Linked DNA regions of Homo sapiens: region 2 is linked to region 1. Evidence: fine-mapped expression QTL. A gene starts in region 1. The other region holds a variant in brackets. All regions are shown on one strand. Distances are between the middles of the regions. Region 1 holds the start of LIPC (lipase C, hepatic type). Region 2 has its middle 21 kb from the start of LIPC.

Evidence for each region.
Region 2: its variant is fine-mapped to the expression of LIPC in whole blood (TOPMed, PIP above 0.99).

What each region holds. Positions count from the first base shown.
Region 1 is chr15:58,426,444-58,438,247 of GRCh38, forward strand. LIPC (lipase C, hepatic type) reads left to right here and starts at 5,548. Exons shown (of 9, transcript NM_000236.3): 1 at 5,548-5,677. The coding sequence starts at 5,590. It overlaps LIPC-AS1 (LIPC antisense RNA 1), which reads right to left. Exons shown (of 3, transcript NR_120338.1): 3 at 8,458-10,469. RefSeq lists an enhancer at 3,567-3,861 and a silencer at 3,567-3,861.
Region 2 is chr15:58,404,675-58,416,478 of GRCh38, forward strand. No RefSeq gene overlaps it. Among named protein-coding and RNA genes, the nearest start is that of LIPC, 21 kb to the right of the region's middle. RefSeq lists a silencer at 5,796-6,090. The variant G/A (reference allele first, on the strand shown) is at 5,715.

The DNA.
Region 1 (11,804 bases):
CGGGATCATGCCATTGCACTCCAGCCTGGGCAACACAGCAAGACTCCATCCCCCCAAAAAATAAATAAATAAATAAAAGAATTGCAAAGGATGAAGCCACAGAGCTCTGCTAACATGCACCATGCTGATCACTCCATTGGAGGCTCCAAACTCTAAGAGGCTCAGGCTTGCCTCCTCTTTAGCTAATAGGAAATGAAGAGGCCTCAAGAAACTGCTGGGCTTCCTTGGGCATGGAAATGACCAAAGATGCTATGAATGGATCTATTGACTGCTCAGATGCATGGCTGGAGTCAAGCACATGACAGTCAGGTCTGGCAGCCCTGGGAGCCATTCTGTCTCTCTAAGGCAGAGGCTTTACCCATTTTTTGACAACACATCTTATCCCCAATATCTATTTATTTGTTTATAAATAATATAGCACTAGTATATTCCGTAGTACCACCTGCAAATTATATAGTACTTATATGCTATAAACATTATACGTGCACAAACATGAACTGTCTAAGGAAATACAAAGAAAAATCTGAAAGGTCTATATTATTTTCTTCTTTTGCCCCAGAAGATCTCTCAAGCACCATTCTGAGGCAATGGTTCTCAAACTTTGTGTAACCAAGAATTACTTGGAGATCTTGCTTAAAATGAAGGTTCACTGGGCCTTGACCCTAGTGTTGATTCCATTACTCAGTATTCCTGGGATGGGCCCATAAGTTGTCATTGTCTGAGCTCCCCAGCTGACTCTTATTCTCATGCTCAATTGGATTTTGCAGCCACTGATCCAGACCCTTGTGTTTTCCTGCCCCTTACATTTTTTGCTACAATTATATCACTGTGGTCTTATTGTTATCTACCTCCTGGACACCTTCGTGATCCCCTCAGTGAATTTAAACATTAAAAAAAATTAGCTACCATTAATTATTTCCTGTGGCCTAGGATTGCTGAGGGCTTCACATGCATTGCCTCACTTAATCAGACTAGGGAGGTATTATTAGTCCCATTATACAGGTGAAGAAAACTAAAGCTCAGTCACAATGTCTTATCCAAGTTCACTCAGCTAGTAAGCACAAGTGACAGACTAGGAATTCAAGCCTGTATCTGTCGGATTCCCAAGGCTGGACTCTTTTTTTTTTTTTCTTTTAGAGATAGGGTCTCACTCTGTCACCCAGGCTGGAGTGCAGTGGTGTGATCATAGCTCACTGCAGCCTCCACCTCCTGGGTTCAAGTAATATCCCTGCCTCAGCCTCCCAAGTACCTAGGACTACAGGTGTGTGCCACCATACCAGGCTAATTTTTTGGTTTTTATGTTTATATAGATGGGGTCTTGCTATGTTACCCAAGCTAGTCGCAAACTCCTGGCCTCAAGTGATCCTCCTGCCTCAGCCTCCCAAAGCACTGGGATTACAAGTGTGAGCCACTGCCCACTGCACCCAGCCTCAAAGCATGGACCCTTGACCACTAAGTATATTGCCCACAAAATAGGTCATTATAATTTATTGACCCTCTACTATGAACCAGGCACTTGGCTTGACACCTTACACACAAATCTCTAATATTCATGGCATACCTCTTTTCCTAGAGGTATTAATTTCAGTCCAGAGATTCTGATGTGCAATAAATTTCTCTATTCTCTGTAACCCATCTAAATTCCTGACTCTTAACCCCTATTTTCAGGCCTTCTGGATTTCTTCTCCCCACCCCACCCCCAACCCCAGTAGTTATGCCATAGTTCTGGACAAATACAATAGCCAGGCATGGGGTCAGGGGAGTGTGACCTAGTCCTCTGTCATCAGTCCACATTGGTGGCCACTGAGGGGCCCATCCTCCCATCAACATGACCTGCTGGCCCCAGAGACTCACTGCTCTCCCACCCTACATCAAGCCAGGTATATCTTTTGCCCATGTGCCAACACAGCCATTTCCTCCCTGGGTTCTTCTCTTCCAGCAGGATTTCTGGGAAGCAAGGTACTGTCCCCTCTGCTCTCAGACCCATAGACAAACCTCCCCCTTCCACACCACCTGCAAAGCCCAAGAGAATGTCTTTCTAGTGATGGCAAGGTGAGGGGTTCCTTCTCCCTTCACATCCCCTCAAGAAATGTTAGTCTTTTGCTTTTCTTTGTTGGCTAGAATTCACCTGCCCACACTTTGGGAGGCCAAGGCAGGAGGATCACTTGAGCCCAGGAGTTTATGGCCAGCCTGGGCAACATAGGAAGACCCTGTCTCTAAAATAAATAAAATAAAATAATATAAAATAAAATAAAATTCACTTGCCCTAAGGTCCTATATTTTTGGAAGACAAAAGATTTGTAGCCTTCTCTCTACTTTGCCCCTCTTAAGTGGAAGGGAGACAGTTTGGGAGAAAAATAAGTTGATATCTCAAAATATTATCTCAGATACATGTTGTCCCCATTTTATAGGTGAGGAGATTGAACTCATTAAGGTTATATAATATTATATACAGCAAGTAGATAGGCCTAGGACCCCCCCAGTTCAGGAAATCTCATACTCTGTGAAGTCCTCCCCTCTTCCCTGCCAGTAGCCTCCCTGGTCAGCTTCAAGAAAACACAACAGAGCTTGTGCATTAAAACCACCACTGGAAGGTCAGACCCGGTGATGGGGCAGGCTGGAAGAGCTTAGGTAGAGGTGAAAGCAGACAACACCCTGAAAGGGGACAGGTACCCACTCCTCCTTGTCATTTTCCAGGAGAGCCTTATAGAATTTGAGTTGGCATGAGATGATGTTAGAGGAATTTGGGGTGGTGCAAGTAAAGGAACTACAAGAGCTAGAAACAATCTTGAAGGCTTCTTCCCATGTTGAAAGTGTTCTTACCACGTAGAAAGTGGTAAGAAAGTGTACTCTGCAGAAATTTGGGGGGCGGGTGGGGGCACACGGTTGGTATTTCAGAGGCACTTGGATTCACTGGTGTCTTTTGATGAGTTTGTGTCCCGAATAAAATGGGGAGTGGCGGTGGTTACTGGCAGTACCCAGAGGAGAGGAGATGAGGGTGGGCACAGGGGAGAGGAGCCCGAGATGGGTAGCCAGCTGGTCTTACGTGCCAGCTTTATAGGAAAAAAAGTGGAACTTTCAGATTCTGCTTAACTGTGCAGGAGCCAGCCAAGTATCCAAGGCAGAAGTCCTTGCTCAGAAATTGTATATCTGATGGGCACGGTGACTCACGCCTGTAATCCCAGCACTTTGGGAGGCCGAGGTGGGTGGATCACAAGGTCAGGAGTTAGAGACCAGCCTGACCAACATGGTAAAACCCCGTCTCTACTAAAAATACAAAAATTAGCCAGGCATGGTGGTGGGCACCTGTAGTCCCACCTACTCTGAAGGCTGAAGCACTAGAATCGCTTGAACCTGGGAGGTGGAAGTTGCAGTGAACCGAGATCGCGCCACTGCACTCCAGCCTGGGCGACAGAGCAAGATTCCATCTCAAAAAAAAAAAAGAAAAAGAAAAAGAAATTGTATATCTGACGGGATGGTCCGCAAGCTTCGGGGCTTGGGAGGAAGGTACAGTCATAGGACAGAACACAGCTTTAGACTGGGTCAAGATCGTCCAAGTCTGGTGGTGGCTTCAGAAGGCCCTTTGAATGAGGCTCGTCCAGGCAATAATTACCATGTTATCTAATTTTGCCCGCTTAACGTTTCCACTTGGATGTCTAAGAGCCATCTCAAAGCCCCACGTGGCCAAGGCTGAATCTCTAATCTTCCCCCAACAGACCTGCTTCACTCACAGCTTCCCCTTCTCAGCTGACAGCAACCCCATTAATCTGCTTGTTCAAGCCAAAAAACCTGGAAGTCATCCTTAACTCCTCTCTTTCTCCCACATCTCACAACTCAGCAGTCAGAAAATCCTGTGGGCTCTACCTTCAAAATATATCCACCACCCATCCACCACTCCGCAGTTGCCCTTTACCATGCTGGGCCACGCCACCATCACCTCTCACTGGGCCACTGTAATAGCCTTCTAACAGATCTCCCCACTGCACCCTGGCTCACTTGCAAACCAGAGTGATATTTTAAAACTATAATACAAATCATATCACCCTTCTGCTCAGAGTCGCCCCCCATGTGTCAATGCATAAAAGTCAAAGTCCTTACAATGTCTCCCCATTCATTGGCCTCCTTGCTATTCCTGGAGCACACCAGGCATACTCCTACCTCAGGGCCTTTGCACAGACTGCCCGAAGCTCTCCTCCCCAAGACGTCCACAGGGGCAACTCCTTCACTTCCTTCAAACCTTTGCTGAAAGTTTAACTTCCCAATGCAATTCACTCTAACCACTCTGCTTAAAATCCCTACCTTCTCCCCAACCCCCTGCTTTTCTTGTAGTGGTTCCCATTACATTCTACCAGTCTACCTAATTTTTTTTTTTTTTTTTTTGAGACGGAGTCTCTCTGTGTCGCCCAGGCTGGAGTACAATGGCGCGATCTCAGTTCACTGCAACCTCCGCCTCCCAGGTTCAAGCGATTCTCCTGCCTCAGCTTCCTGAGTAGCTGGGATTACAGGCACTCACCTCCACGCCCAGCTAACTTTTGTATTTTTAGTACAGATGGGGTTTCACCATGTTGGTCAGGCTGGTCTCGAACTCCTGACCTCGTGATCCGCCCTCCTCGCCTCCCAAAGTGCTGTGATTACAGGAGTGAGCCACCGCTCCTGGCCAGAAATCTCTTCTTTATTATGTCTACTGTCCGTTATCCAACTCCAGAAGGTAAGAACCTCCACTGATACATAAGGACTTGTATACCCCACGTGCCTGCAACAGTGCTTGGCACCTAGTAGGCATACCAAAATATATAAATGTTGAACAAATGAAGAAAGTTAAAGTAAAACTAGAGGTCCAAAAATATCACAAAAGCCATCTATGGTCGCCTTTTCCCTACCTGATTTTGCTGAGTGGCCTTACTTTTCAGTCCTCTACACAGCTGGAACATTAATGAACACAGAGGGGGAAGAAGTGTGTTTACTCTAGGATCACCTCTCAATGGGTCACTTGGCAAGGGCATCTTTGCTTCTTCGTCAGCTCCTTTTGACACGGGGGTGAAGGGTTTTCTGCACCACACTTTGACCACAAGCATCACCAATTTCACTGAACCCAACAGAAATTTGGACCCTCTGGGGGCTCTCTGCGTGGCAGGGCCCTTTTCTTTTTCTTTGGGCTTAGGCTGCAATTTGAAACACCACTTTCCTGAGCCAGCATCCCCCTTGCAGCGCTGTCACAGGGAGGCTTAGGCAGCCACGTGGAAGCCACCTACCCCGACCTTTGGCAGAATTTCCAAACACAACACAGTAGCTTTAAGTTGATTAATTTGGAACTCTGACCTTGGCCCCAAAAGGTAAGAATACATAACAAGGTATTTTATTCTCAAAATGTGTCAGGATAAGAAGCACTTCTGTAAATCGACCTTTTTAAAATAGATATAATTAGATTTGCAGTTGGGGGCAGTAAAGAAAGGGTCTGAACAGTGGATAACATGTTGAGAGGTTAATTATTAATGGGCAGTCTTCCCTAACAAAGTATCTAATAGGCATTGTGGTCTCTTTGGCTTCAGAAATTACCAAGAAAGCCTGGACCCCGGGTGAAACGGAGAAATGGACACAAGTCCCCTGTGTTTCTCCATTCTGTTGGTTTTATGCATCTTTATCCAATCAAGTGCCCTTGGACAAAGCCTGAAACCAGGTAAGAGCCTGACTTTTCTCCAGAGATGGGCATGAACTTTTCTTTTTAAAACGTGTGTCACAAAGAATCCAGGGGTTTCTGACTGTATGGGACAGAGCTTGCTTCAGAGCGTGCCAGGTGGTTCTATACACGACCTCACAGGTTCACAGGGACACGTAGCCGTTTGTAAACAGAAATGAAATTTTAGAAAATCATCCTCGGATTAAAAGTCTTCTAAGAGTGCCTGCAGCTAGCAGTGAAGTCTCTTGCGTATCTGATATGGAAACAGTCATGCTAAAAGTTATTCAGCGGCAAATGATATGAAAGCGATTCAGATCTTCCTGAGAGTTAATGTGGCATCTAATTTGCAACCGGGGAGCCAGGCTTGCAATGAAATGCTCTGTCGGGTTGGGGTTGTCTAATTGCCTGCCTCTCTCAGAAGAGAGGGGAATTTATGAGAGTTCTATTTCCAGTCAGGTCTAAAGTAGAGATATCATTGCACAATTTCTAGACTTTGTTTTGCTGCCAAAATTTTAGTCTGAGGCTGAAGAATCCAACAGCCGTCCTGCCTGTTTTGTTTGTAAATTCACAAACTAGATTGATGGCGAAAGACAGATCAAATGCCTTATCAGGAAGGTAGTAGAGTGGAGCCCAGCTTCCAGGCTAAGCAGTGGACCAATAAATGACGGATCAGTTAATTGAACAATTTGGCCAGACTAGACAGGTGTTTGGGAATTTGTTTTGGTACTGGTTACTGGTCAGGAGCTAGTAACGCTAAGGTAGAGTCTGAGATTTTTCTTTTCTCTAAGACTAGCCTTGGAGAGAGCTCCGACAACTTTGAGAATTAGAAATTCCCTAACGGGATGTACCTAAAAATTTCAGAAGCTTTTTTCCCCTTTAAGAAAAAGGCTGTTCCTTTGTATTTGACTATTTTACTTCATAGGCCAGTTAATAACTGAGTAGCAGTATTAATTATTGCCATTCACTAAGTATTTTCTGTGCCAAGCACTATACTAATTATTTTTGACACATCATCTCATTTATAAAGCCACATCCAAAAATGACCCTTACATAATAATTTAGAGCCATACAGGTAAAATTGCTGGTAATCTTTATTCCCTTGGTTCATAGTGATTTTGCTAAAGGGCCTTTCCTGCCCTTTGCCCCGGAATGTTGTATTTGTTTGTTTACTTTTTAATGAAGTTTATAACACACTTCTAGAAAAGGGCCTCTATCATAAATCCTCAATGAGTTCTCACAAACTGAACCAGTACCCCAAAGCCTTCCTTGTGTGCCCCTTGAGCCTTAACATATATGATTTTTTCCTTTGGGGAGATTTTTCATTAATAGAAACACATCAGTTGCTCTTTTGCGTCTGGCTTCTTTCGTTCGACATTATGTTTGTGAAAGTCAACCATGCAGTTTCGTGGAGTTGAGGCTCATTCATTCTCACTGCTGTAGCATTCCACTGCGGGACCATGCCACACTTCCTTTATCCATTCTACTGTGGATTGGCCAGGACTGTTTTTGCAATGGAGCCATGGGAATTGGAAGCTGTCAGTGCTGAGATAGAGGTTGAAGGGAGGGATGGCCTCCCCCAGGCTTCTGGGTATTGTCCAGATTTTCCTTGAGCAATCTCATTGTCCTGATCAGCCTGCTTCTTTCCCCGGGGCCTAGTTTGTGCAAATGCTGAGAGAAGTGGCCACTATTAGCAAGAGGGTTCCTCAGAAAAGAGGATCCAAGTCAGGAGGCCTCTTGTTCTCTTGGAAGCAGAATCTCTTGGCAGAATTCTTTCTGCAATGAGTGAGCCCAATCTGTGTGCATGTGGCTGGTATGATGTCTTTCTGGGGAAACCGCAGGGAAGCCGGTGTCCTGTGGTGGAGCCCTTGTCAGGAAAGTTTCTACACCAATGGTTCTCAACAGGGGCAATTTTGCCCTCCAGGGGACACTTGGCAATGTCTGGAGACATTTTTGGTTTTTGGTTGTTAAGACCAGGGAGAGAGTGCTTCCCTTCCAGCATCTAGTGGGTAGAGGCCAGGGAAGCTGCTTCACATCCTACAATGCACAGGACAGCCCTCACAACAATGAATTGTCTGGCCCAAAACATTATTAGTGCAGAGGCTGAGAAACCATGATCTATGCCAAGCTTCAACTGTCACTCATCGAGCACCAGGAAGTACTCCCTCAAGGACCCTTCCTCTTTAGCCCCTCCTCCCAGCCTACTTCTTTTGAGTATTTATTATTAATGACATCTTACTAATGGAGTCACTAATGTGCTGCACACCCAGCATGTGCCAGGCACTCCACGGACATTTTATCTCATCCTCACCATATGGTTGAGTAAGCTGGCAGTTAAGTGCCTTGCCGGCGGTCGCATAGCTGGTCAGGGCAGAGCAGGGAGAGGTACCTGCAGCCTCAATCTGTCTACTGAGGCCGCAGTGCTCTGTGTCGAGCCCACACCCAGTGATTTGACAGCCAGAGGTTTCTAGAAAAACATTCTGCTCAGTTCCTCTCACAGAGAGGGAGATTTAGACAGTTGTTCCTGCCCTTCAGCACTAAGGGGGACTGGATAGCGTGAGCTGCTTGAAGCCCACATGGCACATCACACTTATGCCCAGCCCCAATGCCTGAGACCCAGGTTCCCCAGTCGGTGTTGCCATGAGAGCCAACGCTGCTCCTAGACCCTGGCAAGTCCCACCTTCCCGGTACTGGGCCCACTATCAACAGGCACCTTCTCCCTCCCCTCCACCCCAGCCTCAGCTTGCAAATCCTAGGAGCAGCTGAAAGCTACCTATTCAGTCAGTCCCTCATGAGTGTCACAAGCATACATGAGCACCTGCCATACGTAACGCAGTGCCTGAGTACAACTCACACACTCTGTTCACACGTTTCCTCTCTTAAAAATCACTGAGGACCCCAAACAGTGTTTATTATGTGAGATATCAATATTTCCTTCATTAGAAATTAAAACTGAGAAATCTTTAAAATCTGCTAACACTTTTTAAAATGATAATAAACCCTTGCATATTAACACATATAATGTAATTTTATGAAAAATAACTTGTATTTTCCAAATAAGTTTTAAATGGAGAAGAGTGACATTGTTTTACAAAGAAATGTTGCAAATCTCTCTAATATCTGGCTTCCCAAGACAGCTGGATTATCTTACCTGTTTCTGTACTCAGTCTGTTGTGATGTATTGCTTTGTTTGAAATGTAGGAAGAAAATCTGGCCTCCCATAGAGGAAAAGGGAGGACATCCTAAGGCGATCTCCCTGGGGCCTTGGCCTGCAAACCACTGCGCTTGTGCAGTGGGCACTGTACAACAGGGGGCTGCACAGCCGTCCCCACCTTGCAGGAATTTACAGTCAAATGGGGTGGGAGTGGGGTGGGGAGGGAATAGGGGGCCATGGGACTGGGTGGAGGGGGGATGTGCCATCAATAAAAGAGCAACCGTCTGTGGAGAATTTAAATACAAATATAACCAAAAGCTGATCTGCCTGTCATTATCACAATTATAAAGAATGTCAGCCGGGCGCCGTGGCTCACGCCTGTAATCCCAGCACTTTGGGAGGCCGAGGTGGGTGGATCACCTGAGGTTAGGAGTTCAAAACCAGCCTGGCCAACATGGTAAAATGCCATCTCTACTAAAAATACAAAACATTAGCCAGGCTTGGTCATGGGCACCTGTAATCCCAGCTACTTGGTACGCTGAGGCAGGAGAATTGCTTGAACCCGGGAGGCAGAGGTTGCAATGAGCCGAGATGGCGCCGTCGCACTCCATCCTGGGCAACAAAGTGAAACTCCATCCCAAAAGAAAGAGTATCAGCGATAAAGGCAAAGCTCTTTCCAGAAAAAAATGGTTTTATGGCCTAAGTTCTAAACAATCTCCGTGGTTACTGTTGGATTTTATGTAGTAAGTATATGTAAGCTTCAAATTCATCACATCTTTATTATTTATCCTTTCATAAATATTGTGTTCTACATTGACATTAATCTGGAGAACTCCCGGTTATGCACTTGGCCCCAACATGCACAGACTCAGGGGCGTGTTCTTGTTGCAAGAGTAAGTGTGCGATGGTTCAGATCCTTTGACGTCCTTATGTCTCCAACCTCAGTGGCACTTATTACCTGCTTCTGCATGTAAACAGTAGATTTGAAACAAAAAATGATAGCGTAGTGGTTGTACAAACAAAAAACCAGAACTTGAATTATTTCAATTCTCTCATCCTAGGTGACCCCTGTAAGCTTCTCATATGTGTTTAAAATTTAAAGCAACAAAACAGATTGTGAACAATGAGTTGTAACATCTTGTTTGATAGGTAAAAATTTGGACTCATACGAAAAATATTTTTACTGCATTTGAATATCTTAAAGTTAAAATGTATTTGTCTTTTTAAAAATTGTTCACTGCTTTATAACTAAAGAAGAAATCGAGAAAGTAGTGATGATTGCTGATTTTTACATAAATATGACTGAAAATACTTTTGTCTTATAGAGCAGAGGGTCATTAAAATGATCCGTTCTGTGTGTCAAATACATGAGGTATACCACTGAGTCACATATGTAAATGTTATCAGCTAGAACAGAACATGGCATGAGATGAGGACCATGAGAGAGGAATGAGTAGAGAAGCAGATTTTACTTCCAAGTGGAGGGAAGAAGGCTTCTTGGAGGAGGCGGCATTTGAGTAGGGTGTTGAAGGATGGTATCCGGACAGAAGAGAATGAGGCTTTCCTTGTACAATAGCAGAGGTACACAGCTGATAAAGTACATGTGCTTTTCAAGCCCAAATACCTTTCAAAAAAGACCATCTAGGAAGAAAAAGAAAAAATATCCCATAGAACGGTGTTGATAGCAACACTTGTTAAACTGCAACAAACTGGAAACAATGTGAATGCCCAAGTGCAAACCACTGAAGTTGGGGACTCCAGCTACTGCTAAGTCCAACTTCGAACAGGCATGGTTTTGAATACCTACTACTAGAAGTCACAGAAACTTTTGGGGGCAATAATGATGAAGTTCAGAAACAAAAGCCTATTGCTGGCCCCTAAGCACTCACAGTTTAACACCAGGGATCTTAGCACAGAGGATGGGTTTCCAAGAGTCGTTGAGCCTCCTGAGATGGTGCCCAAGGCTGTGTGTGTGTGCATTTTGAGTGGGGAGCAGGTGTCATAACTTTCAGCAAATTATCAAAGGGACCTGTGACCTCTGAAAAAGCTCAGTAACAACTGGTCTTGCAGCTTTGTAAAACAAGTATAAGAAAATTGTATATGCAATAATGTAGGGAAAAAAAAACAGGACTAAATAATCTACATGTTGAATCATAATTATGAAAACACTGTAGACACATGCTGTATATTGCTAGAGATTCTAAGTATATTTAAAGATATATAAAGGGTTTTAAGGTTTGGAGGATTTAAGTACTTAAATGTACAAGAAAAATAAAATAAAAAGGCCCTGATCAGCTACAGTTAGATTGGTCATCCCAAGACGACCCCCGGGAAAGGGATTTTCCACTGTCCTTCCGACCTGCCACCAGCACCCAACTTTGCAGGTTCAGCCACACTCAAAATCACTACCCCAGCAGGGTCTGTCAGATTTCTGAGAGGCCTCCACAGTTACATGGAATGTCACCCATGACTAATATTTGAGATAGAGTCCGGAGATGAAACTCATTCTTCCAAGAGTGCGTACTATTCTGGAATCAGCAGAGGGCCAGCCCCCAGCATTCCAGGGAAATTCTATCTTTCCCATGCAAGAGACCCTCCCATCCATGGCCATCCTTCCTAGCCCTACAGCTGAGCAGGTCTGTGGTCCTGCTGAAAGGTCCACCCTGGAGAGACGGGGGACAGCAGCCTGTCCTCCACTCTGCTTGCCTCTCACAGAGACCCAGGACTGGAACCCATATTCTTTCATTCTGAGCTGGAGAGAGAAACTGCAGGGCTGACGGTTGAAGGCATGGGGTCTGTAAGCTGACCCGAAAACATGAATCGCCAAATGAGTGCGCAGCCAAAAGCCAAGAGAATCTGGTACCTGGCTACCCACGATGGCCCTCTCCCTGCCCTCCTCTCCACATCAGCTGCCACAGTGCTGCGGGCATGCTGGGTCATCACAGTTGGCACAGCAGGGAGAGAGGCAGAAAGAGG
Region 2 (11,804 bases), 22 kb before region 1:
AAAACCCAACTAACAAAGACTTAAGCAATAAAGACATTTAATTATCTTATATAACAAAAGATGTGAATGCAGGCAATTCCAGAGATGGCACCTTAGCTCAAAATTGTCATGAAACAAACAAGACCTTCCTTTCTTTCCACTCTACCATCCTTAGACTTGTTGCCTCGTGGCTATAAAATGGCTGCTACAGCTCTAGTCTAGTGTTCTCAGAGGTCTGTGGCCAAAGGCATATCCCAGTCACATGACCACTCCAGCAGCAAGGGTAGCTAGGAAAGCAAGAATCCAGTATTTGTGACCTTCATAGTGGGTGTGTGGTGCTGTGCATAAGGAAAAAAGTCAAGAGGGTTATTGGATAACTAATCCACCCCTTCTACCATAGGTAACTTTCTGATTCCTGGTCAGGGTCAGAGCTGAAAACGAATTCCTCTTGAACAGAAATATGGATTGGATTTCTTGACACTATATATCTGTTGCTCTACTCGTTTGCTATTGCTGCAAAATAAATAACCACAGACTTAGCAGCTTAAGACAATGCCCACTTAGATTCTCACAGTTCTATATAGGTCAGAAGTCCAGGAAGGCTTGAGTGGGTTCTCTGCTCATGTACTTACAAGGCTAGAATCAAAGTGTTAGCAGGGCTAACCTCTCATCTAGAGACTTGGGAAGAATTCACTTCCACACCCAATCAGGTTGTGAGCAAAATTCAGCTCCTTGCAATTGTAGGACTGAGGTCTCCATGGCCTTGCTGGCTGTCAACCAGGGACTAGTCTCAATGCCAAAGGCCACTCTCAGTCCTGGTACCTGGCACCCTCCATCTTCAAAGTCAGCAATGATGTACTGAATCCTTTTCATACTTTGAATCTCTCTGACTTCCCCACTTCTGCCACTAGCCAAAGAGGGCTCATGTGATTAGATAATAATATAGATAATAAGCCTTTTGCCATACTCATGGATGTGACACCAGAGGGTAAAGATCATAAGACCATCTTAAAATTTTACCTACCACAGTTACCACTAAAAAATATGTAATTAGGACTTATTCCTGGAGTTCAGGATAGGGTCAAGTTTCCCTGAATCATGACAGGGACAGGTGGACTGCCAATCAAAAGTAGGACTCTGCAAGTGAAAAGTTAAAGGAGAGAAGGGCTGTTGGGTGGGCAAAAAAGAGTGTCTGATTTAATTTTTTTCTGTGAAATTGAGTTATTAACCTGTCAACATAAATTCACAGAGCTATAATATTGGAGAGGAGAGGTTTGTTTTTTATAAAGGGTTGCAGCCTGCAGGCTGGAAATCCCACAGGCTTGGAAGCACAGCCTCCAGCAGAAACCAAAAGCAGGCACTTTGAGGGAGGAAAGAGTAGAACAGGAATTTGTGATGAACGGGTTAGCTAAGTACACATATTCAACAGGTTATAGGAAGAGCTATGAATATTCCCGAAGGCAGGTACACACATGCCTAGTAAACAAACATGCATGTTACATGCGTCCCATGTTCACTTTGGGGTACAGACTTAACATTTAAATTCCTTGCAATTAGGTCCTATAGGTCAAATGGTGAAGCAGGGGACAGGAAGGCACTCTGTGCAAGCCTCTGTAAACTGGCCAGAACCAGTCTATGGTCAGTGGACTCTTAACCAGGAGAAAGTTACTGAAATCAGTCTCTTATCCAATCAAAGTAGTAGTTATGGCTTGCAGAAAAGGGGTAGGGAGATGGATGAGTTAGTGTCTGGTGGTTGGTGAGCTGCAATTATTTCAATATTGCTTCTCCAGAGGCCAGTGCTTATTTAGCGGCTAGAGAAAAAGAAAAACCTTGCAGCTATTAGAACCTAGTTTATTCTTTAAGTGTTGGGATGTGTGACTTAACCCTACCCTGGCATGGCCTTGGGTCTTGTTTATAATTTAGTATCTTTTTGCCACAAAGAGTCCATTCCGTCATTCTTATGATCTCTATTTTAACACCCCTAATTTAGTTAAACAGTAGAACATCATCTAGCTGGTGAAAATTATTTTTTTATAAGAACATAATGTATAAAAACCACTGATCAGGACAAGGATCCCTGCTTCATTTAACTTTCCCGTCCTCTCCCTCCACCCTCACTATCCCCACCCCATCTCCTCAGCCTGCACCACGCTCCCCCACGGACTATGAAGAATGCAGACTCACAGGGAGTTTCATAGTGTTTTCTTGCAAAAGTACTGAGTATAGCCAGATTTCTCATGTGGATTTTTCACTGGTTTGTTTCTGTTAGGCAAAACGGAAGGACAAGGGTTGATGGAGAAGGGAGGCACATCTCATACAGCTTCCTCACAGCAGGTCCTAACACTGTCCATTGTGTTTAGAATGAGCCTTTATGTGGCTTTCCATGGGTTTCTGGTGAAAAATCACAACCCTCTCTGAGACGGAGATGCCCCATCACCTGTTCTTTCACTGCATTATTTTCTGTTTCACTGCCTCAAACCAGACTCAGACCTCCAGTGCTCTTTATTTCAATTACTTTTACCTGTTTTATGACATCTATTTGGGTTTAACTTTTGGTTCCTCCACCAAAAAGTCTGAAATTCCAGGTCAGAGTTCTCCAAGGAGCTTATATGTGTTTGCACAAACATGTGGAAATCCTTAGGAACTACCAATTATCAACCACTCAGAACTCAGTGCCTTGGTATTTTTTGCTGTTGTGGAGGCTTGTGTTTACCTTTTATTTTAAGCACTTTCCAGCCCATCCTCTTGAAGCACCTGGCCTTACCAGGGGCCTTGCTCATTTGTTCTTGCTGCCTCCTCCATTCAGAAGACCCATCAATCAGTGTCTGAAACAAGGACCTTCTGTGTAGAATCAAAAGCCACCACATCACAGCTGAAGGCAACAGAATGCAGTGGGCATTGTTGTTTGTACACAGGCCTTCGTCTCTTTCAGAAGTGTCTCTGTTTGAAATGAATGAGGCAGACAAGAGTGTGGCTTCAAAAGCAACTCTCCCCCTCTGGGCTTTGCTTATTGAAAGTCCTGTGAGCACTGTTACTAGAAAGTAAAGAGAATAAAAGGCAAACCTGAGGCAGGCTACAGGTTCCCAGGCAAGGCAGTCACATCCAGCCTCAGCCAGGCAGTACCGCCAGTCATTGGCCTTCACTTTGTCTATTTGAGTTTGCAAGGTTAACATGAAAGAGGCTGTTTATTTTCTCCCAACGATTATGCTTAAAAATTACATGAACTTCCCTCACCGAGACCCTTGCCCAGATGTACAACAGGCTTCTCTCTCTGCCGGTACCTCTTAAGGGTGTCATTGCTGATGGAACTAGAGCTACCTTCACTACTGTTGCCATGGTTACACTTTCTGTACCAGAAAATTGGCTGATCCTTGGCCCAGCTCTCCCACCTGGCTATCATCTCCTCTGCAGCAGGAGGCCTCCTTATTCCCTGATCTATTTTGTGTTTGGCTGGAAGATTGGCGAGCACATAGTTTTCCATGGTACTCATGACCCTTCTGTAAACTCTTAATGACCCTAATGTTGATTAGGACCCAAAGTCTTGGGCCAGTGGAAAAGTTAAAACAAAGTTCAAGACTCATATAGATGATGATCCCAATAATCATCTACATGGCTTGAGAATCATCACCTCCATCTTTTGTCTGCAGAGGGTTTGCAATGAGAGCTAGAGAGTTCAGAGCCAAATATCTGGCCCATCACTGGGAAGTATAAAAGACTGTACAACATATATTTGAAGTGTAATTTCATTTATCAATTCACTATATTTTTCCCATCCTTTTTTCCTACTTAATTTTCCTCTTAATGTCTTGCATTGTTTTTATCTTTTAAAAGTGCTTTAAATTCTTTTGAAGCAAAACTAAATATAAGGAAAACATAGGCATAATCATCAAAAATCCATTGGATTCTTGCTATTATGAGGGGAGGGGGAAAAGTACAAAGGTTTTTCTGTCCAAAAAGAGACAATTCACTTAATGCAAAGTACCTGGAACATATTCTGTGTAAAATCAAATCGAATAATTTTATATATATTTTCTTTTGAAAAAAATACACGATTAGATTCAAGAAAAATTGAATTTCTGGTACAAAGGAGGAATAAGGACATGGCCTTCCTAATCCAAGAAGCTCCATGAATAACTAGGGGCCTGCTTTCTTTCACACAAGAAAGCTGGGTAGTACTTTCAAAAACCTGAGATGGATGGGGCACAGTGGCTCATGCCTGTAATCTCAGTACTTTGGGAGGCTGAGGCGGGCATATCACTTGAGATCAGGAGTTCGAGACCAGCCTGGCAAACATGGTGAAACCCCATCTCTACCAAAAATACAGAAATTAGCCAGGCATCATGGTGCATGCCTGTAGTCCCAGCTACCTGGGAGCCTGAGGCAGGAGAACTGCTTGAACCTGGGAGGTGGAGGTTGCAGTGAGCCAAGATCGCACCACTGCACACTAGCCTGGGAGACAGAGCAAGACTCTGTCTCAAAAAACAAAAACGAAAACACAACCTGAGATGGACCATGTGAGCAGGTGATACCATCAGGGAGTGCTCAGTGTGTTCTAAAAATCGCAGTGTCTGGCACACAGCAAAAGCTTCACAAATATACACCAAATAAACAAGGAAAATAAGTAAAAAACATTATGCCTGCATGCTAAATAAATTCACAGATAATCTTCAAATTAACCTGGGTAGAAATGATTTAGCAATACTGAGAAAAGTGGATGCTATCAAGGGTGTTAGTTATTTTAATCCTCTTGACAACACTTTTAGATATTTTTATCTCCAGTTGTTTTTCAGATGAGATTGAGGAAGATTAAGTAATTTGTGCAAGACCACATAACGAGCAAGTGAAAGACCCAGGACTTGAGCCCAAGGCTTTCTAATTGTAAAAGTAGAATCTATCCCCTCAGTCTACTCCACTGTTGCCCAAGCTAATGTTAAGAACACAAATCCGGCTGGGCACGATGGCTCATGCCTGTAATCTCAGCACTTTGGGAGGCCGAGGTGGGTGGATCACTTGAGATGAGGAGTTTGAGGCCAGCCTGGCCAACATGGTAGAACACCGTCTCTACTAAAAATACAAAAATTAGCCGGGTGTGGTGGTGTGTGTCTGTAGTCCCAGCTAAGCAGGAGGCTGAGGCAGGAAAATCACTTGAACCTAGGAGGTGGAGGTTGCAGTAAGCCAAGATCGCGCCACTGCACTCCAGCCTGGATGACAGAGTGAGACTCTGTCTCAAAAAAACAAACAAACAAACAGAAAAAGAGACCACAAATCTGAGGCCCCATCCCAGACCCACTGAAGCAGAATCTCTAGGGAGGAACTTAGAAACATTTGTGTAACAAGACACCAGATGATGATTATTATCAGAGAAGTTTAAAAAAAAAAAAAAAAAAAAGACACCTCTATTGCATCAGATGGGAAATGGACCTACAGCATCCTCTGAGGGATCAAATAAAAGCCATCAGATTTGAAGTTCATACAAGTAAAAATAAATCAGGTCAGTCTGGAGCATATCAGATTATGATATTATAGACTATTCTTCAGTTTGGTAATATAGAATTGTCTGATTTAAGGTTTTCTGGATCTTAAAATACCAAGAACATTTGAAAAGTTAAAAATGGGTTCCAATTTAAACCTCAGACTTTTTTTTAGCTTTCCTCACTGCCTCTGATCCTGAGGAGCAGAAGTGAATGTGAACGCACTTTGAATTCCTAGCAGCTTTCACTGATGCAGAGGTTCCA[G/A]CTGTACAGGGGCTGGAGGACTGCTGAGGAGAACAACAAGCTGAGAATCAGTCCTCATCTCTGGTTGCCCCCCACCCCACCCTCATTGCCTTTCATTGGATGAGCAAGTCACACAATCCAGGAAGTGGAAAATCTATCATCGCTTGGTTGGTTTTTCTTAGTTTCAGTTTTTCCACGCCTGATGAGAATTGCCAAGGCACAGCAAAGCCTGCAGCTTCCATACCCGTCATGAGAGCAAATAACTTATTTGTAAACCTAAGCACTTAATTAACTAAATGGAAAGCAAGGCAGTGAGTGATTCCTGACATGGCCGAATTTAAGTCAAGCTGTGAAGCTCCAGGTGCAGCCAGAAATGGAGATGGACAACTTGAACTGAACCCTGAGAGCTTCTAAAAAGGCTTTGGACCACTGCTTCTCAGCAGTTTTTCTTGTAAGTTATTCCCATTATCTCAAAGAAAAATTTAAAATATGGTTGGAGAAAAGTATAGAACTGATTATCCCCATTTTGAGCATAGATCATCGTTTAACCAACTTGCTTTCTAACTGCCAAGAAACTTGCTTTGGATGGTATTTCCAGACATAATGTCTATCATAGCAAATATTGACAATTGCATTTTACAAATAATCAGTTTAATATGCTTTAATATGCTTCTATTTCTGATTGCTCTTGATCTCATTTAATCTTCGAAGCAACTCTATCACGTTGGTGTGCTTATTAACATTATTTTACAGATAAAGACGCCTGTAAGTAGCTTCCTCACAGGGTATTTAAGGAACTTGTAGAAAGTCCACAGCTAGTAGCTGGGAGCCCATCTCATATCAATACACTAGCTTCTCCCCAAAGAACTTTATATATTTAGGCCATTGATTTCTTTTTTTTTTTTTTTGAGACGGAGTCTCACTCTGTCACCCAGGCTGGAGTGCAGTGGCAACATCTCGGCTCACTGCCACAGCTCCACCTCCCGGGTTCACGCCATTCTCCTGCCTCAGCCTCCCGAGTAGCTGGGACTACAGGCACCCGCCACCAGGCCCGGCTAATTTTTTGTATTTTTAGTAGAGACGGGGTTTTATCGTGTTAGCCAGGATGGTCTTGATCTCCTGACATTGTGATCCGCCCACCTCGGCCTCCCAAAGTGCTGGGATTACAGGCGTGAGCCACCGCGCCCGGCCTTAGGCCATTGATTTCTAAAAAGACAAATTCTCATATTGGATTAAAACATAAGACCCAACAATACGTATGTTGCTTAAAAATAGGAATCTGTTACCCAAAAAATGCAGAAATGCTAAAATAAAAAGGTTTAATGAGGAAACTCATACGACAAAAAGAAAATAGTTGGTAAAGTTGATAGCATATAAAAGAGATTTTGAAGCCAAAAACACAGGGAGAGGATACAAAGAAGCTCCTGATTATGATAAAAAATAGAAAATCAACTGTGAAGACAGAGGTTACTAAAGTCAGAAATGCAAAGAGAAATAGAATAAAAAACAAGCAATTGTAAAGGGAGAGTTTAATTCATTTCAAGGCTAAGAAAAAAATAGACAAGAGTAAAAAATAAAGACAAATTTAAATAGACAAAAATTTAGAAGACATTGAAGACGTGACAAAAATAGACAATAGAGGTTATGTTATACAATTGATAAGTTAGAACCAATAGACATACACTGAACTCAATACCAACATAGATTACACATTTTTTTCCATATGGGGGCATTGGTACATATATACTAACTCTCAAATAAGGCCCTAAAAATTGAATCAAGAGGAAAAAATATACATATTTTCTCACCACATGCAATAAAGCTAAATGTGAATAAGTAAAAGCAATGAAAGGAGCCTTGGGCAAAAGAATAATCTAACCAAGAGCCTTTGCAGCAAACAGTTCGGGGTTTAGATTATAAACTACATTCCTTACTGCAGTGTGACCTGGGCAGTTTACTGAACCTCTCTGAACCTTGGATTCCTCATCTAAAAATGAGGCTCTACCTTGCAAAGTTGTTATGAAGATTACCTATAAGTATGTCAAATAAACTAAGACTTAAAAGAGAGTTAAAACCGTAAGCCGTACAATATAACTCCATTTTTAATGTACTCATATTTAACTAGAAAAAGTATCTAGAGTTTTTGTCGATTGAAAGCAAAAGTCTATAAAATATTCATCTAAATACTAACAGTGGTTATCTCTGTGCACTGATATTTCTGCCAATTTTTGTTATATTGCTTTATCTTTTCTACTATGAATATATAGTATGTGAATAATAAAAAATAGTAAATTTGAAAATAAACATGAACTTCTGAAAAACAGAGTACAAGAAGAAAATAAATATTTACTCTTGGGTGGCCTACAGATGGTGGTTGCGGTAGGCATACAGCCATCTCAGTTTCTTGTCTGTCATTGTAAATTCTAAAATACCCTCAATTTCTGTCTTTCTACATATATACACGTATACGCACACACATATATAAAACACACATATATTTTATATTTATATATGTTTTATATATATGTTTTTAATATATGTTTTATATATATTAAAAAACACAATATTGGGATAACTGACAATTTGAATGTGGATGGTGGGATTAATCATATGGTATCATGAAATTTCCTGATTTTACTGTTAAATTTCTTGAATTTTATAAAAGAAAATATTTGTGTCCAGAAATATATATTGAAGTATTTAGATATATATGTATGTATGCAGCTTACTCTCAAATTGTTCAGAAAAACATTCACATATCCATAAAGACAGAGTGAATGATAACTAGGGAAAAATACAAACCAACAGTGCACCTAGGTAAAGGGTGTATAGGAGTTCATACTAGTCTTTTAACATTTCTGTAAGTTTAAAATTATATTAAAATATTAATAAAAAATTACAGCAGCAACAAATTAATGGGTATCAATGTCTAACAACCACAAAAACTTTCCTAAACTACAAGTTCAAGTAGAACAGGGGTCTCCAACCCCCAGTACCAGTGTGTGGCCTGTTAGGAACCTGGCCACACAGCAGGAGGTGAGCAGCAGAGCTTTATCTGTATTTACAGTCGCTACGCATCAGTCACATTCACACTAAACTCCGCCTCCTGTCAGATCAGCAGTGGCATTAGATTCTCATAGGACCACAAACCCTATTGTGAACTGTGCCTGTGAGGAATCTAGATTGCATGGTCCTTATGAGAATCTAATGCCTGATGATCTGTCACTGTCTCCCATCACCCCCAAACAGGACCATCTAGTTTCAGGCAAACAATCTCAGGCCTCCCACTTATTCTACATTACGGTGAGTAGATTATAGTTATATCATTATTTCATTATATATTAACAATGTAATAATAATGGAAATAAAGTACACAATAAATGCAATATGCTCAAATCATTCTGAAACCATCACGCATCCACCCCCATTCATGGAAAAACTGTCTCCCACAAAACTGGTCCCTGGTGCCAAAAATGTTAGGGACCAGTGAAGTAGATAATTAAGAACATGATAACAACTTTTGAGATGTTTATAAAATTGAAAACACCCCATATCAAAAGGGAGGGGGCTTTGTATAAATCAGAGCCCAGAAGTTAAGGCGTAAATCTATGTGCTTTTATTTTAGAAATATGAAATAAACATTTGACTTAAAATCTTATGAAGACAGTCAATATAAAGGAAAATAGATAATAATAAAGAGTAAGGACAGAAATAAACTAGAAAAGAGGAAATCAGTGGAAATAATACATAAATTTAGATGCTCATTCTGTGAGAAGATTATAAGATAGATCAATCCCTTGGAAATACAATAAATAAAAGAAAAGGTATAAATCAACAAAATTAAAAACAAGGCTAGTGATTTAACAACCGATACAAAAGATTTTAAAATATAAATGATTGCAATGCAAAATTTATGATAATCAACTTGAAATGCTTAGCCAAATGGACAACACAAAATATTAACTGGCAAGAGAAAATGTAGATAACATGAAAATAATGATGAAGGCAAAGGAAACTGAAAAGCTGTTATTTAAAAAAATCTCATCTACCACAAGAAATATTATGACCTCAACAAATTTACTGAACAATATTACTACATACTCAAGAAACAGATTTTTCTGTATTATGTAATCAGTTCCAAATCACAGAAAAACAAGATCTGATACCCAATTCATTCTAAGAGATGAGTATTATCCCCATCCACAAACCTGTGAGAAATACCACACAGGCGCACACACACATAAACACACGGTCTTAGGATGGCAAATGTGCACAAGTGCCAATTCCTATAAAACTGGCTCGAAATGATTAGAACCAGGCTCAAAGATATTAGCAGATTTTCCCAAAACAGCTGCTGAATAAGTGAATATATGAATACACAGATGAAGAAAATAATGCAGGCAATTAGCAACATCTACTAAAGACCTAAAAGGCAGGAATGGCTTGTGCATACTGTCTATTTGCTAAATTTTATTGATCAATAAATTTTATCTATCCATGGGTTACTCAAGGAGCATAGGCAGAAAAATCATTTTTAACTGAGCTTATAAAATACAGCTATAAATTAAAACAATAGCATGTAGCCACTAATTAAGGTAAATTCTACTGATGCCAGAAGATTATAACAAATCACAGAATATCTTTTGTAAAGGAATTACTATTTGGGCTGGACCCAGTGGCTCATGCCTGTAATCCCAGCACTTTGGGAGGCCAAGGCTGGTGGATCACAAGGTCAGGAGTTCAAGACCAGCCTGACCAACATGGTGAAACCCCGTCTCTACTAAAAAATACAAAAAAAAAAAAAAAAAAAAAAAATGGCTGGGTGTGGTGGTGCATGCCTGTAATCCCAGCTGCTCACGAGGCTGAGGCAGGAGAATCACATGAACCCGGGAGGTGGAGGTTGCAGTGAGCAGAGATCACGCCATTGCACTCCAGCATGGGCAACAGAGCAAGACTCCATCTCAAAAAAAAAAAAAAAAAAAAAAGGAAAATTGAAGAAATGAAGACATTAAGGATATTCCTGAAGGGAAAGACTGTGTAAATCTCATTAAACAAAAATGTAAACTCTGTGAAACAAGACATTACAGGCGATATGAAAGATAAAATGCAAACTGGGAGGATATCTGCAATGAACTAATAGAAATAAGGACAAAAGATATGAATAAGCTATTCTCAGCAACAGAAATTTGAATGAACAATCACACACGTAAGAAAATGTTCAACCTCACCAGTAATCAGAAAATTTAAAATTAAAACAATGAGATACCATTTTACATCCATCAAACTGGTGAAAATTAAATAATCTGACACTCCTCAAGTGTTGGTGATGAGGTGGAAAAACTGAAGGAACACTCACATTTTGCCAACGATACTTTCACGGAAGTAATTTATTTGAAGAATAAATTGTCAACATCTTACTAACTCTGATGGGACATATATCTTACAATCCAGCAATTTCACTTCTAGGAATAAACTCTAGAAGCTTTCACTTGTGGATGATGCAATGTCTACTGCAATATTGTAATAGGAAAATGAAAAAACTAAATAACACAAGTATCCATCAACCCAATGAACAAATTCTGATACTTTCTTAAAATGGGACCATTTGTAGGTGTTTTATCAACAGAGATAAATCTCGAAAATACACTGCTGAGTGACAAAACAAGTTGCAGATAGATGTGTAGAGTATAAAAGTTTGAAAACATACAAAATAATGGTACAATCATCCCTCTATATCCATGGGATTCCACATCCATAGATTCAATCAACCGAGGATGCAAAATATTTGGGGGGAAAATTATACAAAATTCCAAAAGGCAAAACTTGAATTTGCCACATCCTGAGTACCATGTTAAAACCAGGCAAATGAAGGGATGTATAGGCATTGTATTAAGTATTATAAGTAATCTAGAGGTGATTTACAGCATATGACAGAATGTGCATAGGTTATATGCAAACACTACACCATTTTGTATCAGGGACTTGAGCATCAGTGGGTGGTCCTGGAACCAATCCCACACAGATACTGAGGAACTACTGTATATTTTTCGTAGCTACATACATATGCTGCAAACATATACACACAGAGATGAGAATGAAAGACACCAAACT